Linked DNA regions of Homo sapiens: region 1 is linked to region 2. Evidence: fine-mapped expression QTL. Tissue or cell type: prefrontal cortex. Region 2 holds a variant in brackets; the other region holds the start of a gene. All regions are shown on one strand. Distances are between the middles of the regions.

Region 1 (8,103 bases), 260 kb after region 2:
ACGAAATGTCCAGAGAAGGTAAATTTATAGAGAAACAGGATTAATGGTTACCTGGGACTGGGAGTGGGAATGGGGAGTGACTGCAAACAGGTCAAGGCATCTTTTTAGGTCTTGTAAATGTTCTATAATTGGATTGTGGTGACAGTTGTCCAATTCTGTCACCACAGTTTACTAAAAAGCATTGAAATGGGTGAATTTTATAATATGTAAAATGATGCATCCCAATAAAGCTTTTTTTTTTTTTTTTTCAAGAGATGGGGTCTTGCTACACTGGACTCGAACCACTGGGCTCAGGTGATCCTCCTGCCTCAGCCTCCCATGTAGCTGGGACTACAGGTACATACCACTGCACCTGGCTTACAACTGTTGGTTTTTGTTTTTAAAGAAAAATCAGTGTCACCAGACAGAACCTTTCCAAAGCTCTGCTCCTGACCAGAGAACTGCAGCGTGGCCTCCAGAATAACATGTTCACAGCCCTGCCTGGCATTTGGGCCCTGAGTCTGGCCTCACCACCTGCCACATCCTCAAGCATCCTACCCTCCTTGTGGCTGCCAAGCACATGGGCTATGGAGTCAGAGACCCTGAGGTTCCAGCACTGTGACCTTGGGTTACTTCACCTCACTGAACCTGTTTCCTCACTTCTGAGATGGGGATAATGACCCCTCACAAGGTAAGCATGTGGAATTTCTGGGGTGATGCTCTGAATACACTTGGCAGAGTGCTTAGCACAGAGTGAATATGCACTCTTCATAGGGCTGGCTCAGGCCACAGTCAACATCTCCTCCTGAGAGGCACTGCCTGACCATCCCACCTCAAGCAGGCAGCCCCAGTAGCTTTTGCACCCTTTTTGTTTCCTCCTTAGCTCTGGCAGCTCTTTGAGTCTTTTGCCTGTGTCTCTTCCTTTCTGGTCCATTCTCCCTACTGGGCTGAGGTCTCTATGATGACAGGGTCCTCGGCTTTGTCCCTCATTGTCTCAGCAAGGCCAGGCCCAGTGCTGGGCAAGTAACATGAAGGCAGTGGACATTCACTGAGGTGAGGAATAACTGGCAGTTGCAGGTGCAGCGCTCTGGCACACGGCCTCTCTGGCACTGGCACAATGGGGGACTCTCTTGTGTGTCTGACCACATTCTTCTTGATCTTCCCCTCCACCGTGGTCCAGAATCAGCCTCATGGGAGCAATGCATGACGGTAAAGTTGATCAAGCCTGGAGGGGATAATGACTCTGGGAACATGCAAGTGACTGGAACAGGGGTGGGCTCAGTGGTGGGAAAGGGGGAAAGGCTGGTGAACAGTGAGCAGTCTGGATGCTCACAAGCAACCAACATCAGCTGAATCACCAAAAAGGGCGGCTCATGTGGAGAGGAGGAGAGGGAAGGCAGACACATATGCGCCATGACTGCCATGTGTGCCTTCTCTTACTGAAGGATGAGGTTAAATGTACTGGTTAAAACAAAATCTTTACGTATTTCACACATTTGCTCTGAAAACTGGAGTTGAATATAACTGCAGCATTTTGCATTCATTAAATTTCTTTTACCTTCCATGGAATTACGGTTTGAACACACTTTGTGAATTTATGCAAACTAAGTATGTAAACTAGCAAGGCCTAGCACTTAATCTTTTTTTTTTTTTTTTTTAAGACGGAGTCTCTGTCACCCAGGCTGGAGGACACTGGCATAATCTCGGCTCACTGCAACCTCCCCCTCCTGGGTTCAAGGATTCTCCTACCTCAGCCTCCCAAGTAGCTGGGTGTACAGGTGTGTGCCACCATGCCCAGCTAACTTTTGTATTTTTGGTAGAGGCAGGGTTTCACCATGTTGGCCAGACTGGTCTTTAACTCCTGACCTCAGGTGATCTGCCCACTTCGGCCTCCCAAAGTGCTGAAATTACAGGCATGAGCCACCACTACCAGCCACTAACACTTAATCTTACAGGGACGAGAACACTTTCTAAGACCAGGCCTCAGGAATTAAATACAAATGGTCATTAAGAATATTCAACTTGCTCTAAAGAAGCTGGGGCAGATCTTCTTTGGCATCTGCTTCTCATTAAATGAACTGATTTGTTCCCTTTGGCAACTGTTTTGTTGATCTGGCAATCTTTTTCACTCACTTGCCTAAAGACAAGGTGAATTCCTCAACCCTCAAGTAACTCTGCTAACAGAAAAAGCCTCTACACCAAAACATCCTTTCTTCATACCATCACCTCCTTTCTTCAGTTTTCCTCTTTCAAACACAAGCAGAAGGAAGGACGTGGCTCTCATAACGTGGGGCTGTGCACCTTACTGTGCACCTCTGGACAAGTCATTTATCCTCTCTGATTAGTTTGCCCAGCTGGAAAAGAAAGCAGTCAGTCACCAAAGTTCCTTCCAGTTTTAAAACTAAGTGGGGCACTATCATCCCTGTCAGGACAGGTATGGGTATTGTCACAAAATTTTCAGGCTGCCTTGCATACATCATGGGGGGGAATTGCAGAAGTGAGAAAAAGTTGCTTTTTGCACCGAAAAGATCTTAATTAAAGTCCCAGAAGTTACTCAGGTTAACACCTTGGGCAAATTCCTTAACTCCTTTAAGCTCAATTCTCCATCTTTAAATACAGAGAATTTATATGTTGCAGAAGTATTTAAGAGAACTAGAAATGAAATGTACCTGTCTTATATAATACTCAAAAAACATGAGGTTTCCAATCAACTTGAAAGAAGGCACCCCCAAAGGCACTCCCCTGAACCTCTGAGGACTCCAACTTAACTTTCCAACATTCCCCAAAACAGGAGACCAAATCACAAGGGTGAGAGCACCCAAACAGAGCCAAGCTTATCTTTCTAAATTCCAATTCAGGTTCCTCCCTCTCGGCCTTCCAACACAAGCCATCTCCTCCCCCATTTAATCCTTGCCACGAGTGAGGTCCACAAAACTATACAACGCCTAGCAAGCACCAAATGTGCCAAGTACTCTGCTAGGCTAAGAAGAGAGGCCTCCACAAAGCACTCTCTCTGTGCGTTTCCTTAACACTTTCACAGACATCATCTTATCCTAGGCAGTACCTAGGATACATACACACCCAATTTTTTTTTTAATGTGGCCATTGAGGCTCAAAAGAGTTTTTTACCCAAGGTCACACAGCTAATGAGCACCTGCCAGAACTCCTGAAGTCTGTCTTTCTAAGCCACCTCCCTAATTCCTCCTTAATTAACTAATTCATCTACACCCAGCTCTGTGCGTTTCATTTAATCCTAGTCCCTTTTACTGGGTTCATTCATCTCTCCACAGTTACTTACAAAGCACCTGCAGGTGTAGACACAGGTGGAGGAAGAGGCCGAGCACAGCAACATGCCCTGGAATTGGCTTGTTTCAATCCCAGCTCTCCCACTTACTATTTACATGATCTTGGATCAGTTCGTTCACCTCTCAGTGCCTCACTTCTCCTTAATCTACAATAATGGGCTAAATAGGGCTGTTGAAAATTAAATCAGTTAACTTATAAAGGGTTTAGTCCAACGCATGGCCCCTACACTGCAATAAGAGCTGCTTTTATTCTTCTGGGTTCTGGGGACAGTCTTCAATCAGACAGGAACCTTAGCCTCAAAAAGCTTACACTCTAGCAGTAAACGCAATAAACAAGTAAACAATTATCAACAGAAGCGATCACTGTGATGAGTGCTATGAAAATAATAAATGTTGGACGCGGGGTGGGAGGTTACTTCAGATTGGGTGGTCAGGGAAGGATTCTCTGGTGATATCTGAATTACAACAAGAATTACAAGAAACAGCGGGATTTAAGGAGAGCTGAAGGAGAGAGAACAGCCGGCGCACAGACCCTGAGCTGAGCCAGCGGCACCCTCCAGGAAAACACGGCGGTCCTGAGGCTGGGGACGAGGTGCGGGTGCCACGCGAGGGAAATGGCACGAGATGCAGTCCCAGAGGGATGCAGTCCCCAGAGGTCGACGGGCAGCGGCCAGCTTTGGAACCAGGGAAGGCATCATCCAAGCGCGCTAGGAACCCACTGGAGGGTTTCAGGCAAGGAAGGGGATCAGATCTGAGCTATGGTTCTTCCTGCGCCCCGCAGATGTGCTGTGGAGAACAGGCCGGCGGGGAAGAGCTGAGTCCCCAGGCAAAGCCCAGGTGGGAGACACCGCGTACCCAGAACGAGATGCGCGCACCTGAGGGGCCACGGGCTGGGAGGCCGGGCGCAAATTCAAGAAACGTAAAAACTAAGCCGACCGGAGCCAGGACGTGGCCAGGGCGTCCCTCGTGTCCCAGGGGCCTCGCACCTGTACAGTTCTTCACTCCTCCTTCCCTGAAGCCCATGTCGCGAAGCTCCAAGGCTGCCAGCCTCGGGCTCGCGTCTCGGCTCAGCCTCTTCCTGGCCTGAGCCCCCGGAGTCTCCCAAGCCCCACGCCCCTCACGCGTGGAAAGAGCCCCGGCCCTGCGCTCCGCCCCGCACCTCCCCCCCGCGCCCGCGGCCTCCACGCCCGCCCCGGCCCAGGCGGCGCCGCTCACCCGGACACCCTGCAGCACCCGGACCCGCTCCTCCTCGTCCACTCCGAAGGACACCCTGCGGCCCTCGCTGCTCTCCGTGCTCCCCATGGCGAGATGCCGCAGGGCCGGCAGCCACCAGACCCGAGACCCGGCTCCAGAGCAACCGGGCCAACAACGCTTTCCAGGACTCGCGCGGCCGCGGCACACGCCAACAAAGCCACGTCCTATTGGCCGACGCCAGAGGCTTCACCAATCGGGTGGCGCTGAGTCGCGGTGCCTTGTGGGGATTGCAGTCCTTCCGTCTGGAGGGGTGGGGGCGTGGCGGTCTGTGCCTGCTAGAGTGCGTTAGGCTGAGGCCGAAGATGTGTACCGGCGGAGGCCCTGGAGTGGAGGGCTGGGTGCAGGACAGGGTCACGTTCTCGCTTTGGGAGCTCCCCCTTGAGGGAGAGCCAAGGGTGATGTTCTGAGGCCAGGAGACGCCGAGACGGCCAAGGCGCTCATCTGGAGGCGAATTTCTGAGGGTTCACTGCTCCATTCATTCAGCAAACACGTGTAGAGCAGCACGGGCTGAGCGCCAGACGAGCAGGGACCTGGCCCTGGCATTACAGCGCCCCTCAAGACAGCGAGTGTCCTGCCCTTGAGAGGTTTACAGTGCAAGGGGAAAACAAGTGAAAAGCCAAACACGCACGCAAGGAAACTGACTGTAATACACGGAAAACTGCATGGCGATGCCACTAGTAAAATGAACAGAAGGAGGCCTCTTTTAATTTCAGTGGCCAGAGCAACCTCTGAGGAAGAAGCTTTGAACTGAGCCGGCGGGAGAGTAGGATTTATGTAGAAAAAGGTAGGGGAAGAGGTTTCCTGGGAGTCTCAGGCAGGAAAAGAGAAAGAGGGGTCATCCCATGGCTGGAAAGTGAGAAGAGGGCAGAGGAGTGGTGAGGACCCAAATCATGTCGGGTCTTGTGAGGCAGGGTCTGAGTGTGGGTTTTATTCTAAACGCCCCGGGAGGACAGGGAATGGTCCTAAGCCGTTAGGAGGCATTGCCCAAGGAGTGTACATACCATGTGTGGAGTGCAGTGTGCCAGGCATTGTGTGTAGGCTTCTTACACAGGACCCTATGTGTAAGGGAGCACACAGACGGTTGCCAGTCATAGACACTGCTACCTTCAAATAAGCCCCTTTTTGTTCCTCTGAGTTGCTGAATGGCTTTGATTTGCAAAAGTGCGCCTGAAGCCGAGCTGAGGAAAACTAGATGGCTACATGAAATAGCCAGAAAATATTTGGAGCTCCTATTGGCAACCTGGAAAGAAAGGGGTGAGGAGGAGAGAATGATTGAGAGAGAGCAGTAAGGCTCTGAGATTGAGAATAGCTCAGGGTGAAGAAGCTAGTAAACATCCCAGAGCTGGTGTGACGATGGAATCTTTAGGAACAAAGGTGTCTGCTAGTTTCATTCAAAATACTTCATTGGCGCACCCCACTCCATCACCTCTGTCGTCCATTTCTTCCCTATAAGCAGAGCCTGCGTAGGGGATTCTGGTGCAAGGAGTTTCCTGGGGGAGCACCTCAGGAGAAAGGAAGTTAGGGAGACAGGCTAAGAGGGGTGGGGACCGGGGGCCGCGGGGAAAACTGAGTAAAGATGTGGTCAGACCTGGTCCTGGGCTTTCCTTTGTCTCTTTTCCTTGGAGGTTTATGATTACTAATTCAATCTCCTTACTCGTTATTGGTCTGTTCAGATTTTCTGTTTCTTCAAGACTCAGTTTGGATAGATGGTATGTTTCTGGGAATTCGTCCATTTCTCCTAAATTATCCAGTTTCTTGGTGTATAATTGTTCATAGTAGTTGATTATGATCTTTTGTATTTCTGTGATATCAGTTGTAATGTCTCCTCTTTCATTTATACTTTTGTTTATGTGAATTACCTTTTTTCTTGGTTAGTCTAGCTAAGGTTTGTTAATTTTGTTGATCTTTACTGTTGATCTTTTCTGTTGTTTTTCTAGTTTCTATTTCTGCTCTCATCTTTTTTATTTCCTTCAGTCTGCTGACTTTGGGGCTTAGTTTGTTCCTCTTCTAGTTCCTTGAGATATAAAATTAGGTTGTTTGATGTCTTTCTTTTTTCTTAATGTAGGTATTTTTCGCTATAAACTTCCCTCTTAAAAATGTTTCTATTGCATCCTATAAGTTGTGGTACCTTGTGTTTCCATTTTCATTTGTCTCAAGATACTTGTTTATTCCCCTTTTGATTTATTCTTTGGCTCATTGGCTGTTCAGGAATGTGTTGTTTAATTTCCGCACATGTGTGAATTTTCCAAAGTTCTTCCTATTACTGATTTCTGACAACAAACTATTCAAAAAGAAATTAAGAAAATGATCCCACTTACAATAACACCAAAAAGAATAAAATATGAATAAATTTAACCAAGGAGGTGAAAGAAAGATGCACACAAAAAATTGCACACTAAAAATTATAAGACACTGTTGAAAGATACTATAGGAGACATAAATAAGTAGAAAGATAGCCTGTGTTTATAGATCAGAAGAATTAATATTGTTAAAATGGCTTTACTACCCAAAGTAATCTACACATTCAATGTCATCATTATCAAAATTCTAATGACATTTTTCACATAAATAGAAAAAACAATTCTAACATTTCATATGGAACCACAAAAGACCCCAAATCATCAAAGCAATCTTGAGAAAGAAGCAGAAAGCTGAAGGCATCATACTCCCTGATTTCAAACTATATTACAAAGCTGTAGTAATCAAAAGAGTATGGTACTGGCATAAAAATAGATACATAGATCAATGCAGAAAAATAGAGAGCCCATGCATATATGGTCTACTAATGTTTGATAATGGTGCCGAGAATATACACACTATGGAGAAAGGAAAGTCTCTTCAATAATTGGAGCTGGAAATACGGGATATCCACATTCAAAAGAAGGAAATTGGACCCTTGTATTACACCACATAAAAAATCCATTCAAAATGAATTGAAGACTTAAATGTGAGATCTGAAACCCCAAAACTCCTAGAAGAAAACATAGGTGGAAAGCTTCTTATCATTGGTCTTGATGATAATTTTTTTGGCTATAACACCAAAAGCACAAACAACAAAAGTAAAAATAAACGAATGGTATGACATCAAACTAAAAAAGCTTCTCCACATAAGAGGAAACAAGCAGCAAACTGAAAAGGCAACCTACAGACTGGGAGAAAATATTTGGGCACCATATATCTGATAAGTGCTTAATATCCAAATATACTCTATAAGGAACTCACACAACTCAATAGCAAAAATAAATACCCAATTTAAAAATGGGCAAAGGACTTGAATAGACATTTTTCTGAAGAAGACATGTGAATAGCTAACAGGCATATGAAGAGCGCTCAACACCACTAATCATCAGAGAAATGCAAATTAAAACCATGGTGAGATATCACCTTACACCTGTGAGAATCAGTATTGTAATAAAGACAAGAGAAGTGTTGGTGAGGATGTAGAGAAAAGAGAACCCTGCACACTGCTGGTGGGAATATAAATTTGTAGAGCCATTATGGGAGAGAGTATGGCAACTCCCCCAAAAGTCAATACAATCTAATAATCCTATTTCTGTATAGTTAA
Region 2 (8,103 bases):
TCTTCCCTCTGTCTCTGCAGCCCCAGGTGGCGGGAGGTCCTATGGCTGCTGATCTGAGTTACCTCTCACACTATCCCATCTGGGTTTTCAGTTCCTCCATCTCCTTTGTGACCAATCCCTTGCATTCAACTCCCCCTGCTCAAAAGCAAGGGTGCTGTTTTCCTGGTTGGACCCTGAATGATACAACCAATGTCATCACCAAGCAACTGGTGGGATGAGTATTAATACTCCTGCTTAAGGGTCACTCAGCCAGGGCATGAGCCTGCAGCACCCGCCTCCAGGTGCACACCCTGCTGGACACACCCCTCACCTGTGCATTTCTCTCTCAGACCTGACCTCCTACCACACACGTGGAGGTACTGAGGTGTAGGTACACATGAGAGCACACACACATTCACATTCCAATGCAGTGTTACAGATGGCTCCAGCACACACACAGTCTCCAGCAGGGGAGGGGCAAAGATCTGGCTCTGAGAAAGTGGAGAAATGAGATGATATCCAGGCTGGGAAGAGCCCGTGAGGATCCGCAGGTGCCGAGCATGGCTGGCTGCTTGTGCACAAACTCAAGTACACATGCACAGACATGAACACATGTGAATGGACAGGTACACACACACATACCTATGCACATGCTTGCACATGTGTGCTGGCACACCATGCACTCACGTGTGCACACACATGGATACACACGCAGGATGGACATGTGCACACAGACCCATACACACACACTTGCGTACTTGGACACACAGTTCACATGAATGCACACACATTCGCACAGTCATCCTGCATGGTGGACACCGAGACCCAAGGAGAGGAATGCACAATGTCATGTGCACTGTCAGGAGCTCGTTCCCTCATCCCAATCCAAAGCCCCCAGAAAACAATGAGGGAGAAAGAAGTGGATAGAAATGGTTGAACATGCCCTGGTCCTTCAGGGGTGCTGGAGTTTGGGGAGTAGAGCCCCATCCACTGGAGCCCCCCAGGCCTGGCCTCCAGCCCCTCAGGTGAAGACTGTAGGGACTCACTCACAGGAGCCTCCAGCCTCTACCTAAAGGTGTGTAGCTGTGGGTGGGGGCACAGAGGGGTGGAAGTCGGAGCTGGGACCCTAAGGATGGATAGGAGCTCACCAGGTGAGGTGTGTGTGGGTGCCTCACTTCCAACTGGTCTGGTTGAAGAAATCCCAAAACGCTTCCCCCACCTCCCTATCAGTGCCTCAGACTTTGCCACTAGCACGTCTGTCTGCTCCTCTCCAGTTACAAAGTCCATTCCTGAGTCTTGCCCTGTGGTCCCTATGGCAGAGTCTGTAGCTGGGCCTGGGATAGCTTCTGAAGCTGCCCTGAGGGGAGAGTCAGTGTAAGCCAGTGCTCCCCTCCCCAGGCTGGGAAGAGTCAAACCTGCCACCTCAACTTGGCTCAAAGGAAAGGGAAGCCAGGCGCTGACAGCAGATCATTTGCTTCCCAGAACAACGCTCTCTCACAGAGAAGTCCTGTTGCAAATGACAAAAACCCAGTTCAAACAAAAAGGGAAACTTGCTAGCTCATGTTAACTTCAGGTCTGGCTGGATCCAGGTGCTCAATGACCTTGCACAGTCTCTCCATCCCTTGGCTGTGTGCCTCTGCTGGCTCTGCTCTCTAGAACCCTCTCCCTGTGTGGAGGTGAAGGTGGTGGGAAGGGGGGAACAGGAATCGTTGATAGAGTTGGGGAGAGTGGTTCTTCAGAAAACTTGAAAAGCTATTTCTAAAAGAAGACGGGTGGATGCAGAGTGGGCCACAGGTGTTCCCTATAAATCTTAGACACTGCTTTAGTTGTTCTGTAATGAGGAAACTGAGGCTCAGGCCTAAGGGAATTGCTGGCCTTTCTTGGCAACCAACAGGAGGCAGAGTCAGGATTTAAACTGAGGCCCCCAGGCCTGCAGAGCCTGTGGATTTTCCTGTGTGCACCGGGCTCCCTTCCTGCCTGAACCCACTACAGGAGGTGCCAAGACCCGGACTCCAGGGAGATGCCAGCAGGCCCGGAAATGCTGAAGAAGCTGGTAATGGTCCTTACATCTCATTCATTCACTAGTCCTGGTCCCCAAACGACTCCCTACCTGCCTATACCAGGGACCACAGGGGTGGCTAATGGGAGCCCACGTCAGGCTGGTCTTGAGAAGCTGGCAGGCTGTGCACACACTGTGTTGCCTTTGGGTTGGAGGCCTGTGTCGGGGCTGGGTGGGCACCCAGGAGGAGGGCTGCGAGGACTCACACAGGGCTTAACCCTTGAGTAATGTGGAAGGAGACCAGAAGCTCCCGCACAGAGCCTGGAAGAGGAGGAGGCTAGAGCCTCAGGCGCGGGCCATGAGCCAGACATGGAGGTGGGAAGTGGACAGACTGGTCAGGGTCAGGCGTGAGTCTTATTTTCAGGACCAAGTGGAAGTTTATGAAAATCCAGCAAGATCTGGGGACAGATGTGTGGATTTGGGGGTGTGGGAGGCCCAGGGCTAAGGACACTATGGGGAGGAGGGAGAGGGGTAGGCAGACCTGGCCAGCCAGAGGCAGTGGGGGACCTCAAGGAAGGGCCCTGGATTCTGCATGAGCCCCTACAGAGCCTTATGGCCCCTGCCCTGCACCTCCCACACCTGTGGCCTTGCTTCCCAGCTCTGCTCTTTGGCCTTCAAACCTTCATCAGCTCCTGGTCTGAGTCAATCATGCAGTGACGTGCGGGCAACGGTGCCATCTCATGAGGCTGCTCTACCAGCCTCTGTCTCTGGATGCTTCTTTGCACAGGCCCTGCCCAGGCAGGAAAGGGCTGTTGCTGCTACCCGCCACTGCCACTGCCGACCTCGTTCTGGCCTCATTCCCAAAGCAGGAGGTGGCTTTGTGGAGCTCAGAGGCCAAAGAGGTCTTTTCACTCCTCTCAGGCCAACTGCAATCTGACCAGACTGGCTACCAGGGAATGAAGGAACCAGGGGTTGCAGGCAGAGGATCAGGAAGTGCTTGCCCCTGGAAGCTGGCTCTCTGGCTGTGCTGGAGCCTGAAACTGGAACCTGAGCTAGCCTGGAGAAGGAGGGGCCATTTGGAAGAAACCATGGGGCCGCTGGCCGCTGGACACAGGAGGCCATTTGAGGTCACAGGTCTGTTGGCTGACATGAGTGGGCCTGGGCCGTAGGCTCCACCCAGCAGAATCATGAGCCACATAAAATGGGCGTTGTTTTAAGCTACGAGGTCTGGGGGTGGTTTGTTACCCAGACAGAGCCAGCTGGTACAGGCTCAGACAGCATCCAGCCCACAGGTGTCTGTGTACCTGGGAGTCTGTTTCCCACCCCAGGATGCGTCCCCAACCCCCAAAAGTGACACCTGGAGGAGAGGATGAACAGCTGAAAGTTATTCCTGTGAGATCTGAAGTTGGACAAAGCCCTGGAAGCCAAATGCTTCTGAGGGAGTCAGAACAGCATGGTGGATAGGCCTGACCTGTGACCCCTCACCCCTCCTCTTAGTAGGCCCCTCCCTGAAGGGCTCAGGCCAGGGTGCCCAGTGCACCCCACCCCTCCTCGCCGCATCACACCACATGGAGTCTCCTTGTGCATTTCCACAGGCTGACCCGGGACTCCTAGAAAGGGAGTCTCCCAAAGCTGTCTGTCTGGCTGCTAGTATACTACCCGCCCAGCCAGTAGGACACGCCCAAGCCCCAACCCACCCCTTGAGCTCTGAGTGTGAGAATCTGAGAAGGGAAGTTTGTGCTGCCAAGCCTGAGTCAAGGCTGCAGGCTTTCAGCTCCAGATGGCATGGGGACTCCCCAAGGGCTCTATCAGGAAACCCAAGGTCACCGGCAGAGCAGTTAGAGGATCCCAGGCTCCAACCCAAAATCCTCCTGCTGGCGTGGTACAGGCTGAGTGTGGTCAGGGCACCTTGGCTGGAGGACGTGGCTAAAGGACAAGGACTGGAAGTCCAGTGTTTGGACACCAACCAGGCAGAGCATGTCCCAAACCCACTTTGTCATCTGCCCTCCTCAATCCCTGCATTCCTTATTTTAGAACCCCCAACACCCAAGTCAGAGACTTCAAAGTCACCTGGCCTCTTCTGTCGCTCAGTCGGTTTCAGTCCTGCCAATCAGCCCCACTAACCCGCCCTGGGCTTGAGCTGTGCGGGGCCCTCCACACTGGTGATGTTCCCTGGCATCGAGTCCTGTCTCCCTGGCACCACCTGACAGCCGGAGCAACATCACTCAGAGACAGTGCCAACTCAGCCTGCTGCACTGCAGTCCTGCCGCCTCTGCAGCCGCGCCGCCTGCCTGCCTTGACCACCTTTGCTCTCCTCCACTGCCTGCTGCCCTCACACCTGGGATCCCCTCTGCTGGGTCTCCGGCCCGCCCTGCCCTCGTCTGGTCAGCTTCCGCCCCGGGCGCAGGCAGCACTCGCTGCAGGAAGCTGGCCTGCTCTCCCTCTGTGCCATCCCTAGAAAGGCCTGCTCCCTTTCCTTCTCCTCCCTGTTTCCGCGGCAGCCTGCTGCTGCTGCTGCTGCTGCTGCAATGTAATTAGGGGTTCTCAGGCCATCTCCCCTGCCAGGCCAGGGACTCCCCGAGGGGAGCAGCCCATCTTCCTCAGCTCCACTTCGCTGGTGTCCAGCAGAGGGCTGGACGCAGAGTAGGCAGCAGTGACTGTTTGCCAGTGAGTCAACGACTGAAAACAAAGGCATCTGCTTTATTTGTTTTCAGACAGTAGCGCATACTTTGTTTCCTAAACACGTGGCAGCCCCAGGCTCAGGGGCATATGCAGGGGCCCAGCAGGAAACGGCAGGGCA[C/G]AGTGGCTGTGGTCCCATGATTGGTCCCTTCTTCAGGGCTCCAAGTCACTGCCAGGGCAGGGAATGATGTCTGCTCCTCAGCCCTACAAAGAGAACAGGTCAGAGTTGAGTCAGGGCCCACTCCGCCCATGCCCTCCAGCTCCGTGCAGATCGCCCTGTGACAGCAACCGCTTCCCAGGGAGCAGCTGTGAGTTGGTCTCCCTCCTCACCTGGAGACCCATCAGTGAGTCTCTTCACCTCTGTACCCCGGAGCCCAGCACAGTCCCCAGCAACAGGGGACGGGCCCTCACTCCACACGACAGTGACACCAGAACCCGCTCCCCTTTCCTTTACTCTCCCAGGGCTGGCTCAGAAGGCAGGTCCCCTGCCCCTGCCCCCTCAACCTGCTGCGGTGTTTCTGACAAGCACCCTGGATATAGAAGAGTCTAACCCAACTCTGCTCTGCCTCATCAAGGCCTCCCCTCTGTTCTCTGATTTTTCACAGCTCAGCAGGAGCCTGCTGGGATGCTGGGGTCCGCACAGTCAGGGTCCTGTGGTGGACAGCCTGAGGCCCCTGTCCTCATCTGAGATGCCCAGCACATCTGCACACAGGCAGGTGCCAGGCTCTGGGCCTAGGCATCACCTACCTGCCCTAGGAGCCCCAGGGCAGATGTTAGATCCTGGAGAGAGAAGCAGTGCTGCCCCACCCCAAGGCCCTTGACCATGTGGGCCTCTGTCCCCTGCTGTTTGGCCCCTTGCATAAGCAAATCCCTCTTAGGGACCCTTCACTCCCCGCTCTCTGGTTCTGCCAGCAGCCTTCTGAGGCGAAGGCTGGCGAAGGGTGGTGAGAGTTTCTCCAGCACTTGCCACATCTCACACACAGGGCACCACCCAAGTGCCTGGGTGCTGGGGCTCCGAGGGAGTCAGGTTGAATATGCCGTCTCCAAATGCACACACACTGCCAAGGCAGCACGTGGGGAGAGCAGGCAGGCCTCTGGCACTGCCATTGCTCAGTCTCTGGTTTCTTTGCTAGTCATGTCAGGGGTAGGGGCCGGGAAGGAGGGAGCCAGACCTGGCAGTGTCCCAGAGCCTCTCTCAGGGAATACACTGGGGTTTAATGTGATCTGTCTTCCTTGGTAATCACATTTTTGCCTTGGTGCGAGGAAGATATATTGGTGAGGTGTGTTTGTTAAAGAAATACTCTTAGGGGTGGTGGGTAGGGGCTGAAAACTACCACAGAGGTGGGGCTGGATGGAGAGAGGATGGAGTCTAGGGCTGGCCACTGAGGCGTAGGCCCTGCCAGGAAGCCAAGAGGCTGCAGCAGATCCCTCGGTAAAGAGTTAGGTGTGTGATGAACAGAGACTCGGAGCTGCCCTTGATTGGGTGTGTGGAGGATCTGGAGGCTTCACTTTGCTGGTGAGTAGGGAGCTAAGTGTCTGGTCGGTGCGAAGGGCCCTGGTCTGGCCCAGCCTACCCAGTGCCCCAGCGCCTCCTGCCCACGTGGAAGCAGAGTGAGCAGCCTTCCATCCTCTGAGATGGAGGAGGAGGCCGCCTGTCCTACCCAGGGCTTCCCTCTCTTGGAAGGCTGACAGAGGCCTTGCGACCACTCATCCTGTGTGGAGCTACTTCTGGGCTGTGTTCTGGCCATGAAGGGACAGTCGGTGCTGGACGGGGCTGTGACCAGCAAAGAGTGGAACAATCAGCCTTGGCAGATGGGTGTGAGCAGGGCATGACCCAAGGAAGCTCTTGCAGGCCTGGGGCTGCAGGACCCCGCTCAGTTCAGTGGGACAGATCTCCCCTTGGACATGGCTGGAGAGCACAGAGCATCTGGCCTCAGCCTTTTCCATCCCAAGTACCTAAAGCAGCCTGTCTCCTACTCAGGCCAAAGAGGCTTTTACGTGGGAAAGGAGACCTCGTCCTGTTGTTTCTCCCATACATTTTCACAAACAGGCCGCACTCCTTGGGGAGCCCAAACTAGGTGTTCTGAGAGTGAATGATGCTCCCCAAGGTGGGAGCTGTCCTGTTGGGGTGGGGCAAGGGTGAGGTATGGCTGGGAACAGCCTGACTGCACCAGAGGACGCTACGGGACCTGGGAAGGGGGAGGACTTATCTAGGATAGAGAGCAGCAGTTGGGGGTGGGGGAGGAAGGCAGTAGGAGCTGGCTGGGAGCGCATCACAGGCATCCAGGACAACCGAGGCCCACTGGAGTGGGAGGTGACCAGAGAGCACATGAGGCTTGGGACCACTCACCAGGAAGGCCAAGCCAGCACACCCCTGTAGACCAGCTCAGGGCAGGGTGGCTGTGAGCAGCTTCTGATGGCCACATCTGCTCCCACTCCTCTTCCAGATGGCCTATCCTTGCTGGGACCCCCACTCTGCACTCGGGCCTCTGCCACCCTCCCACCCCTAAGTGCCGAGGGCTAAGAAGTCCCCGGCACCCACAAGGGGCCCGGCCCTTGAAGGTGGGGCCTGACTTTACCCAGCCTGCTCCCACCCAGCCTAATAGGGCAAACGCAACAGGGATCATCTCCCTGGGGCCAGATGTCCAAGGCGCTCCTGGAAGCAGCCAGGAGAGTGTGCAGGTGACTGAGGAAAGCGAAGAATCCCTCCCTTGGCAAATGCAGAGACCTCCAAGTGGAGCATCTGATTCTAACAGGAAAAGGCAGGCAGAGATCTCCAATGCTAGATAGAGGTACCTCGCCTACCTCCCAAGGCCCTTGGAAACCTGGGAGGCAGGCAAGGCCTTACCTTGTGGGCGGCGCTCACGCAGCGCTGGTATGCCTTGACCAGGTCCGAGCACAGCAGCACCTCATGCGGGCGATCTCGGTAGCAGTGGAGAATCTGGGCCTGCAACCCTGAGCAGACGGGCTCCACCCTGCGGGGCCTGCAGAAGACAAGAGCAGGCAGGCCTGGGGCTCAGGTGCCAGCAGGCAGGGGAGAGAAACAACTCACATTCACTCCACCTACCTCCCAGGCGCTAGGCTAAGTCCCTGACACCCAGCAGCATCCTTTTAACCCTCAAGGAGAAGCACTGTGCTTTCCCGTTCTAGAAATGAGAGGACGGTCGCAGGGTCAAGCCCTGTGGTGGGTGGCTTAGGCTCACAATATAGCAGACACTGAAACATGCTGTGGTATGGGGCTCCACACCGGGCTCCTTCACTGGGGCCTGTGTACACTCAGGAGACAGGAAAGCCCCACTGGAGGGCCCCCATGAGGATGGTGCAGCCCGCCTCCAGGACAACCCGCCCCGCTGTGCCCAGGATAGCCATCCCTTTATGCCTGAGACAGCCCGCCCCACTGTGCCCAGGATAGCCGTCAGCTGCTTTCCTGGGCTTTCCTGTGCCTG

Evidence for each region. PIP is the estimated chance that this variant, and not a neighbour inherited with it, causes the effect.
Region 1: it holds the start of CHCHD6, and the variant in region 2 is fine-mapped to the expression of CHCHD6 in prefrontal cortex (GTEx, PIP above 0.99). The same link has a PIP of 0.9 or more in anterior cingulate cortex, caudate, cerebral cortex and nucleus accumbens.

The regions. Positions count from the first base shown.
Region 1 is chr3:126,700,796-126,708,898 of GRCh38, reverse strand. CHCHD6 (coiled-coil-helix-coiled-coil-helix domain containing 6) reads right to left here and starts at 4,659. Exons shown (of 8, transcript NM_032343.3): 1 at 4,500-4,659. The coding sequence starts at 4,586. RefSeq lists enhancers at 3,408-3,959, 5,020-5,079 and a silencer at 4,270-4,469.
Region 2 is chr3:126,956,954-126,965,056 of GRCh38, reverse strand. CHCHD6 (coiled-coil-helix-coiled-coil-helix domain containing 6) reads right to left here. Exons shown (of 8, transcript NM_032343.3): 7 at 7,506-7,641; 8 at 4,637-4,861. The coding sequence ends at 4,856. Among named protein-coding and RNA genes, the nearest start is that of PLXNA1, 22 kb to the left of the region's middle. RefSeq lists enhancers at 2,407-2,953, 2,954-3,502, 4,600-5,147. The variant C/G (reference allele first, on the strand shown) is at 4,779.